Regions from separate parts of the Homo sapiens genome. Here region 1 is linked to region 2. Evidence: fine-mapped expression QTL. Tissue or cell type: skeletal muscle. Region 2 holds a variant in brackets; the other region holds the start of a gene. All regions are shown on one strand. Distances are from middle to middle.

The links. PIP is the estimated chance that this variant, and not a neighbour inherited with it, causes the effect.
Region 1: CYP1A1 starts here. The variant in region 2 is fine-mapped to the expression of CYP1A1 in skeletal muscle (FUSION, PIP 0.95).

What each region holds. Positions count from the first base shown.
Region 1 is chr15:74,721,444-74,729,443 of GRCh38, forward strand. It overlaps CYP1A1 (cytochrome P450 family 1 subfamily A member 1), which reads right to left and starts at 4,085. Exons shown (of 7, transcript NM_001319217.2): 1 at 3,998-4,085; 2 at 830-1,683; 3 at 148-274; 4 at 1-60. The coding sequence starts at 1,654. RefSeq lists a promoter at 3,793-5,697, a cis regulatory region at 4,548-5,922, enhancers at 4,574-4,597, 4,630-5,829, 4,968-4,990, 5,065-5,079, 5,128-5,151 and 1 more and silencers at 4,642-4,922, 4,642-4,817, 4,662-4,741, 4,813-4,922, 4,922-5,081.
Region 2 is chr15:74,506,056-74,514,315 of GRCh38, forward strand. No RefSeq gene overlaps it. Among named protein-coding and RNA genes, the nearest start is that of ARID3B, 31 kb to the right of the region's middle. RefSeq lists enhancers at 6,104-6,153, 6,464-6,523. The variant C/A (reference allele first, on the strand shown) is at 4,530.

The sequences.
Region 1 (8,000 bases), 220 kb after region 2:
TGGGGTTCATCACCAAATACATGAGGCTCCAGGAGATAGCAGTTGTGACTGTGTCAAACCCTGGACAGGGTAGAACAGAAGAAGTTAGGCAGGCAGCAGCAGGTCAGGGCACTTGAGCACAGGAAGGACACAATGGGGTAACCATACCAGCTCCAAAGAGGTCCAAGACGATGTTAATGATCTTCTCATCTGACAGCTGGACATTGGCGTTCTCATCCAGCTGCTTCTCCTGACAGTGCTCAATCAGGCTGTCTGTGATGTCCCGGATGTGGCCCTTAGGTAGGGAAAGTCCACAGGTGAGCAAGATCTCAAACCCAGAGCTACCTCTCCATCCAGGTCTGGTCCTTCACTATTCCTAGCACATTTGTTCTGGAGGTGATGCCCCCTGAGGCTGTTGTCCCAGCTTCTCTCTGCCTCTGCAAGGCTCTCTCCTACTACCTTAGAATGCTGCTAGCCCCAACTCATGGGACATTTGACACACAGCGTCTTGTACTGTTATCATCTGGATGTGCTCTTTATCTTCTTTCTATTATGAGGCCAGGAGATGAACTCTTTAACTCTTCCTGGCTCCCTCAGCAACTGCCCCAGGGTCCTGCATGTAATGACTCTTCAGTGGCTATTGCTGTCTGTGGAAGCATGGAAGGGTTAGTCAAGATAAAGTTCTATTTCCCTGCCAAGGAAGAAGACTATTCCACAACTGGCTTCAAGATCCCAGGTTGAAGCCTTCCTGAGAACTTGCCAAGCCCCATGCAGTTCCTCTTACCTTTGACCTCCCAGGCCCTGATGCCATCTGCTTCCCACCACCCACCTGCCTTTCCCCAGACTGTACCTTCTCAAAGGTTTTGTAGTGCTCCTTGACCATCTTCTGCATGAAGCTGTAGAACTTCTCATTCAGGTCCTTGAAGGCATTCAGGGAAGGGTTGGGTAGGTAGCGAAGAATAGGGATGAAGTCAGCTGGGTTTCCAGAGCCAACCACCTCCCCGAAATTATTATTCAGGTTGACTAGGCTAAGCAGTTCTTGGTGGTTGTGGTCATAGCGCCGGCCAAAGCAAATGGCACAGATGACATTGGTCACTGATACCACCACATACCTGTAGGGGTTAAAGTGCCCAGGCCCTGCCATCAGCTCCTGCAACGTGCTTATCAGGACCTCAGCCTCCTTGCTCACATGCTCTTCCAGGTAGCAGGAGGTTGAGGAGGCTGGGTCAGAGGCAATGGAGAAACTTTTCAGGCCATTCTGGGCCAGGCGCCGGCGGGCAGCCCACACTGGTCCAGAGTCTGGGCTGAAGGACATGCTCTGACCATTACTGATGAGGGTGAAGGTGTAGAGGTCGGGCCGGCCCTTGAAATCATCGCCCTGCCGCACCAGGGCCTGCCGGATGGTGTCCAGGCCGCTCAGCACCACCACGGGTGTGGAGCCAATTCGGATCTGCAGCACGTCCCCATACTGCTGGCTCATCCTTGACAGTGCCAGGTGCGGGTTCTTTCCCAGGGTCAGCATGTGCCCAATCAGAGGCCAGCCCCATGGCCCTGGTGGATTCTTCAGGCCTTTGGGGACCTGAGGTCTTGAGGCCCTGATTACCCAGAATACCAGACAGAAGATGACAGAGGCCAGAAGAAACTCCGTGGCCGACATGGAGATTGGGAAAAGCATGATCAGTGTAGGGATCTTGGAGGTGGCTGCTGAGAGAAGGTGCAGGAAGAAAAAAAGTCAAGCCGTCAGATTGGGGGATGAGAAAAGCCAATATCTAGAGTGTCAGGGAAAGGGGAAACCTTTCCACCAGAACTGCTTACTGGGCATGAAGAAGAGGGTGAGGTGGGGAGAAGTTGTTGAACTACCACTGTGGGCTAAGAATTTCACAGTCCTTCTTCATTCAGCCCTGGCCACAAATCTATGAAGTAGCCTGCAATGAGGCTCAGAGAAGGTAAGTAACTTGCCCAAGGTCACACAGCCAGAAAGTGTTGGATGCAGACTCCCAAGCCAAGTTGCCTAATTCCAGAACGCTTTCTCTTAACTGCTGTACCAATCTAAACTGACATCTTCCAATGTCAATCTGTGATTTCCACATAGTACCAGTACTGTTATTTACTTCACATTTTCCTAAAATCAACTTTAAATCTACCTACATATCATCATAAACAATATCTATGTGAAAGTACAAGTTTGATTTTTCCCCTAACACATTAAAATAAACACATAATCAAGGTGTATCACCCCGAGTCCTACCCACCACACTTAGGAAAATCATGTTCTCAGGGGAATTAGGGATCATCTGATCCTTTAGCCTCATTTAACATTTGGGGGAAGCAGCGCTGACTTGTCCAAAGTCCCCCAGCAATCAGTGACAGAGCCAGGACTCAGACTCCTTAGGGACACTTCCCTGGAAATTTCCAGCTGCTGTCACATGTACCTCCTTTTGAAGAGTGGTCAGATCAATGAAGGAATTTTCCCAGAACCCTCAGTTCTCTGCTGCTCAATCCCAGGATGCAGGAAATCCCACCAGACCCCAGGACAGACTGAGGAAGAGATAGGGGACAGGATGGCCACTTCCCAAACCACATTGCTTTCAGCCCCAGCTCTCTGAGTTCAACTGATCCACAGTTTAAAGGCAGCTGGAGACCAGCTAGATTGAGCTCTTTAGTCAGAGAAATCCAGGCCAGGGTTTTTTTTTGGCTCAATTCTCAATGAATGAACAGTTTGGACCTCCCCCTTTTGCAGGTTACCAGAGAGCAGAGAATAAATGGAAGGTTCCCACTAGGCTGTAAGAAAACCCCAGACTGGAATCAGGGAAATCAGGAATGGATCTAAACTGAAAGGAAACTGAGGCAATACTTTCTCTGTAAGCTTGACCTAAAAAGGGTGTTTAAATTCATAAACCACTCTCTCCAACATATCAGGCATCTCTGCCTGTTACCCTGGACTAGAGGTCAGTAGACCCAACATTCTAGTCAAAGTGATCTTGGACTGCACATTTTACTTTTCTGGGGTCCAATTTCAACATCTGAGAGAGGGTAAGACAAGATCTCTCAGTTCAGAGTACCCAGCTGGATCCAGAGGGAAGAGAAAACCCAGATCTGCTGTGGGGAACCTGACAGTCTTACCAGTTAGGCTCCCCACAGGAGAACCTCACAAGACAGGGAGATGGATGGTTCCTACCACAAGTATTATAGTGGAGGGAGGCTTCCTGGAGGGGCTAAATATCAAAGCACACTAGATCCCTGAGTCAACAGGGGACAGTGCCAGGCTTTGGTGTGCTATGGTGTCCCCTTCTGCACAGTGGGTATCCCAAGGACCTGCAGCCTTTGTAAGATGGTAGGAGGCCAAGGGAGATGTGACTGGTGAGTTTTTAGGGACTGGTATTTCCAGCTCCCTGCAGTTGGCAATCTGTCACCCTGATTGTCTCCCAGCAAAGGACAAAGAAGATGGTCAATGAGATAGGAAAGGCCTGGGACTCCTGCACAGATCTGCCTCTATTGTCCCAGCTGTCTAGGACATCTCAGCACTGACAAGCCACCCTTAGGAGGGTAAAATCTGCCAGGGGTAGCTTCTTAGGCTAGGGCAGGGTACAGCTGGTAAGAACCCAGCCCACCCCCTCCATCCACCCTGTCCACCCAAGGAGAAGCCCCTGTCATCAGAAAGCCTGAGGGAGGGGCTGCACATATTCCAGCCTGCCAGGTGGCCTTGATGGGGAAGCCCCAGGGTAGGCAGGGAGACACTCACTAGGGGATGGAGCTGGAGCCTGGGTCCTGAAGTCCTGAATGAGATGCCATCTGTATCTAGAGGTCTGGTACCAGCTGTGGGACCATGGGCAAGTCCTCCTCTTCCCCTGGCCTCAGTTTCCCCACTAGGGGGCTAGACTGCCTGGTCACTAAAAACACTCTGAGCCTCCCTTTTTGGAGGTGCTAGACAGGTAGCTACCTAAGAAGTCCTGGAGGCACCAAAATGTTCCTTTTATTGGGAGAGAAAGGGCAAGCCAGAAGTCCCCCAGCAACTCACCTGAGGTACTGAGCTGAGCTGGGAAGGGTGGACTCTTGGAGCCTGGGATCACAAGGATCAGGGAAGGTTCCAAGGAACTGTCACCTTCAGGGTGAGGGTGAAGGCACTGCCACCTTTATAGGCGGGCTTGTACGTGTGGCCACGCCTCCTTCCCTGGAGCGAGCTGAGATGGAGGGAGAAGCAGCCTGAACCGGGCTGGTCTCTCTGGGATTGGAGAGAAAGGTGGCGGAGGGCGGCGGGGGTGGGGGGTCGGGTGGGCAAGAACCCACTATGGGACACATCTCGGTGCCTGTACATAGAGGGGTGAGGGCTGGGAACACCTGGAAGTCCCAATTCCAAGGCGTCCCAAGGGCAGTGCAGAACCCAGCCGAGGAGGGGGCTTGAGGGAGAAGTCCCAGGACAGCCCGAAGAGAGGGTACGGGAAGCTCCATCCTGGGGCGCGGGGACTCCTCTTCGTCATTTTTGCACCCACTGGAACGCTGGGCGTGCAGATGCCTCCCCAGCGCTACAGCCTACCAGGACTCGGCAGGCGGGGGCGGGGCTGCCCCGTGGTGACCTCCTTCCCGGGGTTACTGAGTCCCGGCTCGCGTGAGAAGCGCTGCGACCCCAGCCCTGAGGTCACGGGGGCCGGAAGGCCAGAGGCGCCGCGGGGCTGGACCTGTCCCCCAGAGCCCGGGCGACTAGCTGAGGTTCGCGCCTCTTGATTGAAGGATCGGAATGGATGGCGAAGGGGCAGGCTCGCTGAGCGCTCACTAGCGGCTCCTCGCAGCCTCTAGGATCGCCTTAGTGCTGATTGCAACGCGCGGTCCCTCCAGCCAGGACCCACCGGCCCTTGAGGGTCCCTCTTGGCTCCCGGGGTGGCTAGTGCTTTGATTGGCAGAGCACAGAAATCCGGCGGCGGGGGGCCACGGAAAGACTCGGGCCCAGGGACCACGGAGGGGGCACCTGGCGCGGAGCCCCCACCCTACCCCCGGCTAGCTTGCGTGCGCCGGCGACATCCCTCTAGGGGGCAGAGGTCAGGCGGCCCGTCCCCGCCCCACCTGGCCCGGAGGCGCGGTGCCCAGGCGTTGCGTGAGAAGGACCGGAGGCCCGCGCAGCCACCCAGCCGACCCATTCCCCGGCCCGGCGCGGGGGCTCGCAGTCACGCGAGGGGGGAGGGAGTCGGGGCGGGGCTCTTAAAGGGCCAGCCTCGCGCGCGGCGTGGGGTTGGGGTGGAGGGAGAGGAACTGTCGAAGGGTGGCGGGTGCGCGATTGAATAAGGGGATGCGGTGCAAAGGGTCTAGGTCTGCGTGTGGCTTCTGCCTGCGAGGAGAGGCAGCCTGCATGTGTCCGCATTTTCGGTCCACGCCTGTGGCACGACACGAAGCCCCAGTGCCATTTGGCATGGCCTAGCTGCCTGCCTCCGACGCTGTCCCGCCCTCCGGAACCTTCCTGTTACAGGGTTTCCAGGAAAAAAAAAGTTGTATTTGCGTGCCTAGCTCAACCTGGCCCCAGCTAACATCGTTACGCGCCATCCCCGACGTGCTCCCCAACCCGGTGGCACCACCATCCGTCGCTGGTCCAGGCCAGAAAATAATCCCCTCACCTCCCATTCCGGTCATATGCGGCCTCGTGCATTGCACAAATATTTACCAAGCAACTACTATGTGCCAGGAGCTGTTCGGAGGCGCTGGCGATTGACAGAGAAGGGAACACAGCTGACAGCACTCCTAATCTCGTGGAGTTTACATTCTGATGGAAGGAGACAAGTAATATGCCCCAAATCTAGAGAATGTGAGAGGGTAAAAAGTGCGGTTGAAAAAAATTAAACAGAAAAGGCGTACGGATTATGTGAGGGCAGATTGCAATTCAAAACAAGGGGGTCAGGGAAGGCCTTGCGGAGAGAGGCAGGAGTGTGGAGTCAAGAATCAATGTGCATAGATATCTGGATAAAAAGTGTACCTGGGCAGGTGCGGTGGCTCACGCCTGTAATCCCAGGACTTTGGAAGGCCGAGTCGGGAGGATCGCCTGAGGTCAGGAGTTCAAGACCAGCCTGGCCAATATGGCAAAACCCCATCTCTATCAAAAATACAAAAATTAGCCGGGCATGGTGTTGCTCACCTGTAATCCCAGATACTGGGGCGGTGAGGGGGGTTTGGGGGGAGTGGAGTCAGGCAGGAGAATTGCTTGAACCTGGGAGGCAGATGTTGCAGTGAGCTGAGATCACGCCACTGCACTCCAGCCTGGGTGACAGAGCGAGACTCCATCTCAAATAAAAGACTGCAACTGGCAGAGGGAATAAGCAAAATCAAAGCCTCCCGCCACCCCCCACCACAGTGGTTCTTGAAGGACCGAGCAGTACCAGGGATGTGCAGAGGTCATGTGACTGGGGAGTTCTCCTGGCATGTAGTCCAGGGGGATGGGATGCCCATGAGGCACAGCGCCCTGCCGCATGTGCAGGGAGCACCCCATTGAGAGACATGAGACTTCCTCTGTGCGAGATAGAGACATGGCTGGGGTGTAAGAGAAGCAAGGTCACTCGGGCTACTGTGCTAAGAATAGGAGGCACATTTCTCTGCTTGGCATCTGCTTTGGCATCTGTCCAGCTCCACTGCCACAACTCATCCAGGGCCCATCATTGCTCCCTGGAGCACTTAGCCTCCACCTAGGTTCCCATTTGCCTTTTGCTCCGTCCAATTACTTCTCCATCCTGTGGCACCCAGAGTGGTCCTGTCAAAAATGCAAAATCTCATTCCATCACCACCTTGCTTAAATTTCTTTGGTAGCTCCCACCACTCTGAAGGCAGGAATAAGAATCTTTAGCAGCTCTCCCTCTCCCTCTCCCTCTCCCTCTCCCTCCCTCTCCCTGTCCCCTCTTTCCACGGTCTCCCTCTGATGCCGAGCCAAAGCTGGACTGTACTGCTGCCATCTCGGCTCACTGCAACCTCCCTGCCTGATTCTCCTGCCTCAGCCTGCCGAGTGCCTGCGATTGCAGGCGCGCGCCGCCACGCCTGACTGGTTTTCGTATTTTTTTGGTGGAGACGGGGTTTCGCTGTGTTGGCCGGGCTGGTCTCCAGCTCCTAACAGGGAGTGATCCGCCAGCCTCGGCCTCCCGAGGTGCCGGGATTGCAGACGGATTCTGGTTCACTCAGTGCTCAATGGTGCCCAGGCTGGAGCGCAGTGGCGTGATCTCGGCTCGCTACAACCTCCACCTCCCACCCGCCTGCCTTGGCCTCCCAAAGTGCCGAGATTGCAGCCTCTGCCCGGCCGCCACCCCGTCTGGGAAGTGAGGAGCGTCTCTGCCTGGCCGCCCATCGTCTGGGACGTGAGGAGCCCCTCTGCCTGGCTGCCCAGTCTGGAAAGTGAGGAGCGTCTCTGCCCCACCGCCATCCCATCTAGGAAGTGAGGAGCGTCTCTGCCCGGCAGCCCATCGTCTGAGATGTGGGGAGCGCCTTTGCCCTGCTGCCCCGTCTGGGATGTGAGGAGCGCCTCTACCCAGCCGCGACCCCGTCTGGGAGGTGAGGAGCGTCTCTGCCCGGCCGCCCCGTCTGAGAATCAAGGAGACCCTCCGCCTGGCAACCGCCCCGTCTGAGAAGTGAGGAGCCCCTCCGCCCGGCAGCCACCCCGTCTGGGAAGTGAGGAGCGTCTCCGCCCGGCAGCCACCCCGTCCGGGAGGGAGGTGGGGGTCAGCCCCCGCCAGGCCAGCCGCCCCGTCCGGGAGGGAGGTGGGGGGGTCAGCCCCCCGCCCGGCCAGCCGCCCTGTCCGGGAGGGAGGTGGGGGGGTCAGCCCCCCGCCCGGCCAGCCGCCTCGTCCGGGAGGTGAGGGGCGCCTCTGCCCGGCCGCCCCTACTGGGAAGTGAGGAGCCCCTCTGCCCGGCCACCACCCCATCTGGGAGGTGTACCCAACAGCTCATTGAGAACGGGCCATGATGACAATGGCGGTTTTGTGGAATAGAAAGAGGGGAAAAGCGGGGAAAAGATTGAGAAATCGGATGGTTGCCGTGTCTGTGTAGAAAGAGGTAGA
Region 2 (8,260 bases):
TTCATCCTTCCACTAACCAAGCAGCTGTCACACAGCATGGCATTGCTAACCACCCTGCCTTTGCACCGGCAGTGTGGAAATAACAGTGTGTCGGACACTGTGGCCCACGCTTCTTCTCCCCTTTCCCACCAGAGCCCTGACTTTGCATAGGTGTCCACTCTCCCCCACATAGCCCTGTGCTTCAGGGCAAGATGCCCCCACCTCAGCCACAGGAAGGGCATCCTGATGGCCTAATCCAATTGTGGTTCCACATTCCTCCTGCCATGGACATAGGACTCAATTCTAGCTAATGAGATGCAAGAGGCTCCTGGGAAAGTCATCCTTGTTCCTGCCAAAGAGAACAGGAAGAGTTAGATCATTACTCATGTTGGATGTTGTTAGGCTGGATGATAAATCCCATACACTGAGGACAGCACTGAGACTTGTCTGATAGAAGCTGGGCCTTTGGTGACATGGAGTGCCAGTGATCATACTCTGCCTAAAGAACAACCTTCTGGCTGGGCATGGTGGCTCACATTGTAATCCTAGCACTGTGGGAGGCCAGGGCAGGAGGATCACTTGAGCCCAGGAGGTGGAGACTGCAGTGAGCCATGTTCGTGCCACCACACTACAGCCTGGGCAACAGAGCAAGACCCTGTCCCGAAATAATAAAATAATAATTTTTAAAAACACAAAAATTAGTCGGGTATGGTGGTGCATATTTCCCAACTACTTGGGAGGCTGAGGCAGTAGAATCACTTGAACCCAGGAGATGGAGGTTGCAGTGAGCAGAGATCGGACCACTGCACTTCAGCCTGGGTGACAGAGCAACACTCCATTTCAAAAATAATAATAATACTTTAAAGGCCAGGAGCAGTGGCTCATGCCTGTAATCCCAGCACTTTGGGAGGCTGAGGTGGGCGGATCACTTAAGGTCAGGAGTTTGAGACCAGCCTAGCCAACATGGTGAAACCTTGTCTCCACTAAAACTACAAAAATTAGCTGGGAGTGGTGGTGCGTGCTTGTAATCCCAGCTACTAAGGAGGCTGAGGCATGTGAATCGCTTGAACCCAGGAGGCGGAGGTTGCAGTGAGCCGAGATCGTACCACTGTACTCCAGCCTGGGCAAATGAGCGAGACTCCATCTCAAAAAAAGATAAATATAAATAAATAAATAAATAAATAAATAAAAGTGTAATCTGAAGCTCAGCATGGCATGGTGGTTCACACCTGTGATCTCAGCACTTTGGGAGGCCAAGGCAGGTGGCTGTCTGAAATAATAATAATAATTTTTAAAAACCAACCTTCTGCTGGTCTATATTTCCTTATGATTGAAGTCAGTTTGAATCATGGTTTCTGTCCCTTTTAACTGAAAGCACCTCACTAGTAGGACCTTAACTGACCTTGGATGAATTACTGAATGTGGATGTATTTGGTGTGTTATGATGTTTAGGACCAGCTTCACGGGTGTGCAACCTGTGCTGTCACACCAGGCCCACACTTAGTAGGGCCCCACGCTTGGTTTAATGTTCTGCTTTCATGGTTTTGAAATTCTTTTATATATATATATATTTTTTTTTTTTGTATTATACTTTAAGTTCTAGGGTACATGTGCACAATGTGCAGGTTTGTTACATATGTATATATGTGCCATGTTGGTGTGCTGCACCCATTAGTCATTTACATTAGGTATATCTCTGAAATTCTGAAATTCTTAATAACTTACGAACAAGGAGCCCTGCATTTTCTTTTTTCTTTTTTTTTTTAATTTTTTTTTTTTGAGATGGAGTTTTGCTCTGTCGCCCAGGCTAGAGTGCAATGGCACGATCTTGGCTCACCGCAACCTCTGCCTCCTGAGTTCAAGTGATTCTCCTGCCTCAGACTCCCGAGTAGCTGGGATTACAGGCATGCGCCACCACACCCAGCTAATTTGGTATTTTTTAGTAGAGATGGGGTTTCTCCATGTTGGTCAGGCTGGTCTGGAACTCCCGACCTCAGGTGATCCGCCCGCCTCAGCTTCCCAAAGTGCTGGGATTATAGGCGTGGGCCACCGCGTCTGGCCTGGGCCCTGCATTTTCATTTTGCACTGGGCCCTCCTAATTATGTAATTGGTCCTGGTGATGTGACATTTCTTATCTCCTTGTGTTTCTTTTTCTGCCCTTTCAATCTTTGAATCTGCACAGCTTCATCCACAAGACTCTAATTCACATGCTTCATCTGCCAAATCCACCAGCTTAACTGCAAAATGAGGAGGTTGAACCATTATCTGATCTCTATGGATACCTTTTAGAACTGTTAAGAATTCACCACTGGGCATGGCGGCTCACACCTGTAATCCCAGCATTTTGGGAGGCTGAGGCGGGCAGATTGCTTGAGCTCAGGAGTTCGAGACCAGCCTGGACAACATAGCGAGACCCCATCTCTACGAAAAGTACAAAACTTAGCCAGGTGTGGTGGTGTGTGCCTATAGTTCCAGCTACTTGGGAGGCTGAAGTGGGAGGATGGCTTGAGAGGTTGCAAGGAGCCGAGATCGAGCCACTGCATTCCAGCCTGGGTGACAGACCAAGAGCCTGTCTAAAAAAAAAACCAAAAAACAAACAAACAAAAAAACTTAAACTTTCTTGCAGATGAGCAGTCTGTGTTAAAAAAGAAAAAAAAAAAAGAAGGAAAAAGGATTCAACTTTCTCCCCAGCCATTTTGGTAAGCAATGACTTTTCAGTATTCCAGAAGGCAAAATTCAAGTGCCCTGGCCTGGCATTCAATATCTTGTTCCATATATTGTTCTTGTTACTTTCTGACACCAGCACCCATTACTCCCCAGTAAGAATTACCCACTTTAACTAAAAAGAATGATGATGATAATAATAATAATAGTAACAATAATAGTGAAAACAATGCATTCAAATAATGGTTTATAGACCGTATTCATACATATTTACGTTTGTTCCTCACAATAATTCTGTGAGATATCATGTGAAAAATAATTACTCTGGACCTTAATTCTATTACAAATAGAATTTACTAACAAGCACTATATCTCATGCAAAAGTTCAGAAATTTAATAAGTGTAGTTAATTACTAGTCATTTATGACAACTTTTTTTTTTTTTTTTTTTCTGGAGACAAGAATCTTGCTCTGTTGCCCAGGCTGGAATATAGTGGCAAGAGTGATCCTCCTGGGCTCAAGTGGTCTTCCTGCCTCAGCCTCTCAAGTAGCTGGGACTACAGACATGTGCCACCATGGGTGGCTATTTTTTAAATTTTTGTAGAGACAGAGTCTTACTATGTTGCCCAGGCTGGTCTCAAACTCCCGGGCTCAAGCCATCCTCCCACCTTGGCCTCCCAAAGTACTGGGATTACAAGTGAGCCACTGCACCTAGACTTATTACAACTTTTTATTTGAAATAATTTCAGACTTACAAAATGATTTCAGGAAAGGTCAAAGACATCCCATGTACTTTTTTTTTTTTTTTTTTTTTTTGAGACAGAGTCTTACTCTGTAACCCAGGCTGGAGTGCAGTGGTGCGATCTCGCCTCATTGCATCCTCTGTCTCCCAGGTTCAAGCAATTCTCCTGCCTGAGCCCCCTGAGTAGCTGGGATTACAGGTACCTGCCACCATGCCCAGATAATTTTTGTGTGTTTTTGTTGTTGTTGTTTTGTTTTGTTTTGTTTGAGACAGAGTCTCACTCTGTTGCCCAGGCTAGAGTGCAGTGGTGCAATCTCAGCTCACTGCAATCTCCACCTCCCGACTTCAAGCAATTCTTCTCCCTCAGCCTCCTGAGTAGCTGGGATTACAGGCGTGTGCCACCACACCCTGCTAATTTTTGTATTTTTAGTAGAGACAGCGTTTCACCATACTGGCCAGGCTGGTCTCGAACTCCTGACCTCGTGATCCGCCCGCCTCGGCCTCCCAAAGTGTTGGGATTACAGGTGTGAGCCACAGGGCCCGGCCTGTATTTTTTGTTTTTTTGTTTTTTGTTTTTTGTAGAGACGGGCTTTCACCACGTTGGCCAGGCTGGTATCGAACTCCTGGCCTAAAGCGATCCGCCCGCCTTGGCCTCCCAAACTGCTGGGATTACAGGCGTGAGCCACAGCACCCGGCCCCATATACCCTTTATTCAGATTCTCAAAATGTTAATATTTTACCACATTTGCTTTATCATTTTCTTTTTTTCTTTTTTTTTCCCAAGACGGAGTCTTGCTTTGTCGCCCAGGCTGGCGTGCAGTGGTGCAGTCATGGCTCACTGCAACCTCAGTCTCCCAGGTTCAAGCAATTCTCCTGCCTCAGCCTCCCAAGTAGCTGGGATTACAGGTGTGTGCCACCACACCTGACTAATTTTTGTATTTTTAGTAGAGACAGGGTTTCATCATGTTGGCCAGGCTGGTCTTGAACTTCTGACCTTGTGATCTGCATGCCTCGGCCTCCCAAAGTGCTGGGATTACAGGCATGAGCCACCGCGCCCGGCCCCATATGACGTTTATTAAGATTCTCAAAATGTTAACATTTTACCACATTTGCTTTATCATTTCTCTCTCTCTCTCTCTCTCTCT[C/A]TCTATATATATATATACATATATATATATACACACACACACACACAGGTAATATATATGCATACAGACATATATACACACACAAATATATGTATGATATATGAAATTATTTTTCCAGAACCATTGGAGAATAAATTGCAAACAGGATGAAATTGTATCTCTAAATACTTAAGTATGTGTTTCCTAAAACAAGAATATTGTATTCTCTTGTATAACAGTAGCACAATTATAAAATAAAAATAATAACATTGATATAATAATATTACCTAACCCAGAGACCTTATTCAGATATCCTCCACTGTCTTAATAATGTTTTCCACAGCAAAAAGAAAAATTATTTTTCTAAGGTCAGGCATGGTGACTCATGCCTGTAATCTCAGCACTTTGGGAAGCCGAGGTGGACAGATCATCTGAGGTCAAGAGTTCGAGACCAGCCTGGCCAACATGGTGAAACCCTGGCTCTACTAAAAATACAAAACTTAGCCAGGCGTGGTGGTGCGCACCTGTAGTCCCAGCTACTCAGGAGGCTGAGGCAGGAGAATCACTTGAACCCAGGAGGCGGAGGTTGCAGTGAGCCGAGATAGCATCACTACACTCCAGCCTGGGCGACAGAGCGAGACTCTGTCTCAAAAACAAGAAAGAAAAATTATTTTTCTGGCTCAGGATCCAATCCAGGATCACACACTGCACTTAGTTGAGAAATCTCTTTAGTTTCTTTTAATCTGGAATAATTCCTCAGTCTGACTTTGCCTCCCACGATCCTTTGTCACTTGAAGAATACAGGCCAGATATTTTGTATGAGGTTCTTGTTTTAGGTTTATCTGTTTTTTCCCCTCATGATTAGATTCAGGCTATACATTTTTGGCAGGAATATTCTAAAACTGATGCTGTGTTCTTGGTTTATTAAATCAGGAGGCACATTACTGACTACTGGTGATGTTAATTTTTATTTTTAGGTCAAGGTGGTGTCTGCCAGTTTTCCACTTTAAAGTTATTCTTTGTCGATTTTTAGTTAATAAGTATCTTTTTTTTTTCTTTTTTTAGAGACAGGGTCTCACTCTGTTGCCCAGGCTGAAGTGCAGTGGCGCAATCATAACTCACTGCAGCCTCAAATTTCCGGGCTCCAGTGATCCTCCCACCTCATCCTCCTGAGTAACAAGGACTACAGGCACGCCACCAGGCCTGGCTAATATTTTATTTTTGTAGAGACAGGTCTTGCTATGTTACCCTGGCTGATCTCCAACTCCTGGCCTCAAGTAATCCTCCCAACTTGGCCTCAGCCTCCCAAAACTCTGGGATTATAGGCATGAACCACCATGCCTGGCCAATAAGTATCTTGTGGGGAGATATTTTGAGACTATATCCTGTTCCTCATAAAACTTTTACCCACTAATCTTAGCATCCATTGCAAAAATTACAAAGTCTTTCATTGAAAAAGTATACACAAGCCAATGGTTAAAAAATTCAAAACAATACAGTGAACAAGTATGTATACATACTCACTTTTTGTTGTATAAAAAAAGAGAAATAGAGTGAATAGTATAGTGAAAAGTAAATCTCCTGATATTAGATCCTCAGGACCCTTCCTCCTGTTACTTGTTTGTGTCTTTGTGGTAGACACGATGCCATATGATACTGAACCTCATTTCATTTCCTTTTTTCTGGGCATAAAGGATGACAACATTTCCTGTCCTGCTTTGCGGTGAGGCTGAGACCATGAGACTAGTTCTGGCTCAAGGGCTATGAACAGAAATGATATTGGGCACTCTTGGGCCAAAGCATTTAGTGCCATTTTATGTCTCTCCAGCTCTCTCTTCCCCTGCTGCAGCAATTGTGAAAGCCACGCATTTAGATGGTGAAGCCACAAAATGGAAACAGCCTGGATCCCTGAGTCACCAGATGCAGAAACAGCTGCCCTGAAAAGTTGTCCATCTTGCACTATACATGCCCATGTACGAGAAATACAAGCCTTTTCTGGCCGGGCGCGGTGGCTCACGCCTGTAATCCCAGCACTTTGGGAAGCCGAGGCGGGCAGATCATTTGAGGTCAGGAGTTCGAGATCAGCCTGGCCAACATGGTGAAACCCCGTCTCTACAAAAAATATAAAAATTAGCCAGGCATGGTGGCAGGCGCTTGTAATCCCAGCTACTCAGGTGGCTGAGGTAGGAGAATCGCTTGAACCTGGGAGGCAGTGGTTGCAGTGAGCCGAGATTACACCATTGCACTCCAGCCTGGGTGATAAGAGCAAAACTCTGTCTCAAAAAAAAAAAAAAGGCCTTTTCTGTGGTTAAGAAATGAGAATCAAGTTTAAGATATTTGAGATTTTTCTTTTTATTATTTTTTTCCTTAGAGGTAATTGTGGGGTGGAGGTGGGGGTCTTGCTATCTTGCCCAGGCTGGACTCAAACTCCTGGGTTCAAGCAATCCTCCAGTCTCAGCCTCCCAAGTAGCTGGGACTATAGGTACACACTACCACACCAGTTTCTTTGAGATTTTTGTACATCGGGATATATAGCTCATTCTTTTTAAGATTTGCCAAGTGTTCCATTGTATGACTATAATATATTTAGGAGGTACATTTCTTTAATTTAAATTTTTGAATTGATATTATATACCATATGGTTTTAAATTAAAATGGTTCAAAAAAGTATATATGTGAAAAATTCTCACTCTCATTGCTGCCCTGAGCCAATAAATTCCCCACCAAAGGTAACCAATATTTCCTGTTCCTTATGTGTACTTCCAGAGTTATGTCATACATAGGATATTTAAAGGAACCTCACTCGTCTCAAGTTTGGCCGAGACACCAAAACAATAAGGTCACACTTCAAAGTTACGGGCAAGTCCACCAATACAGGATTTGCAAAAGAAGATTATAGAAAACCAATTTTCATGCCGGGCGCGCTGGCTGACGCCTGTAATCCCAGCACTTTGGGAGGCCGAGGCAGGTGGATCACGAGGTCAGGAGATCGAGACCATCCTGGCCAACATGGTAAAACTCCATCTCTACTAAAAATACAAAAATGAGCTGGATGTGGTGGTACGTGCTTGTAATTCCAGGTACTTGGGAGGCTGAGGTAGGAGAATCACTTGAACCCAGGAGGCAGAGATTGCAGTGAGCCAAGATAGTGTCACTGCACTCCAACCTGGCGACAGAGCAAGACTCCATCTCAAAAAAAAAAAAAAAAAAGAAAAGAAAACCAGTTTTCAATCTTCATTCACTACCCATCCGCAGCCTGCAAAAGATGTTGAAGAGATTGAAAAAAAAAAAGACTCAAGGTTTTAGAAAAAGCTATTGCTGAACTGAGTCACTGAGTCATTGCCTCCAACCTCATCCTAAGGGGTACATGCCCCTCACCTCACACTAATAAAACGAATTTTACTGGGATCACATAGTAGAATATGTGTTTCTTCGTCTTTGAGAGGCACAGTGGGCTGAAGTCTGAGTTGTCTGGGATGTGTAAAGGGTTAAGGGTTAATGCAGGCATCCTGTGGGGTAGAGAAGAGGTTGCGATTTGGGATATAGCAGCACTTGCAACAATGGGTCAAATGAACATATTTTCTCTAATCTAAGTATGATACAAACATGCAAGAGCTCTGGAGAAGCATTGCCTTGGATCCTGTTCAAGAAAGCTGCCTGGAAAGTAAGTGGACTTCAGCAGAAGGAAGGTGGAGGCGTAGCACCAGATGCCTAGAGTCTCGAGAAAGAATTGTAAATAAACAACTGTAAAA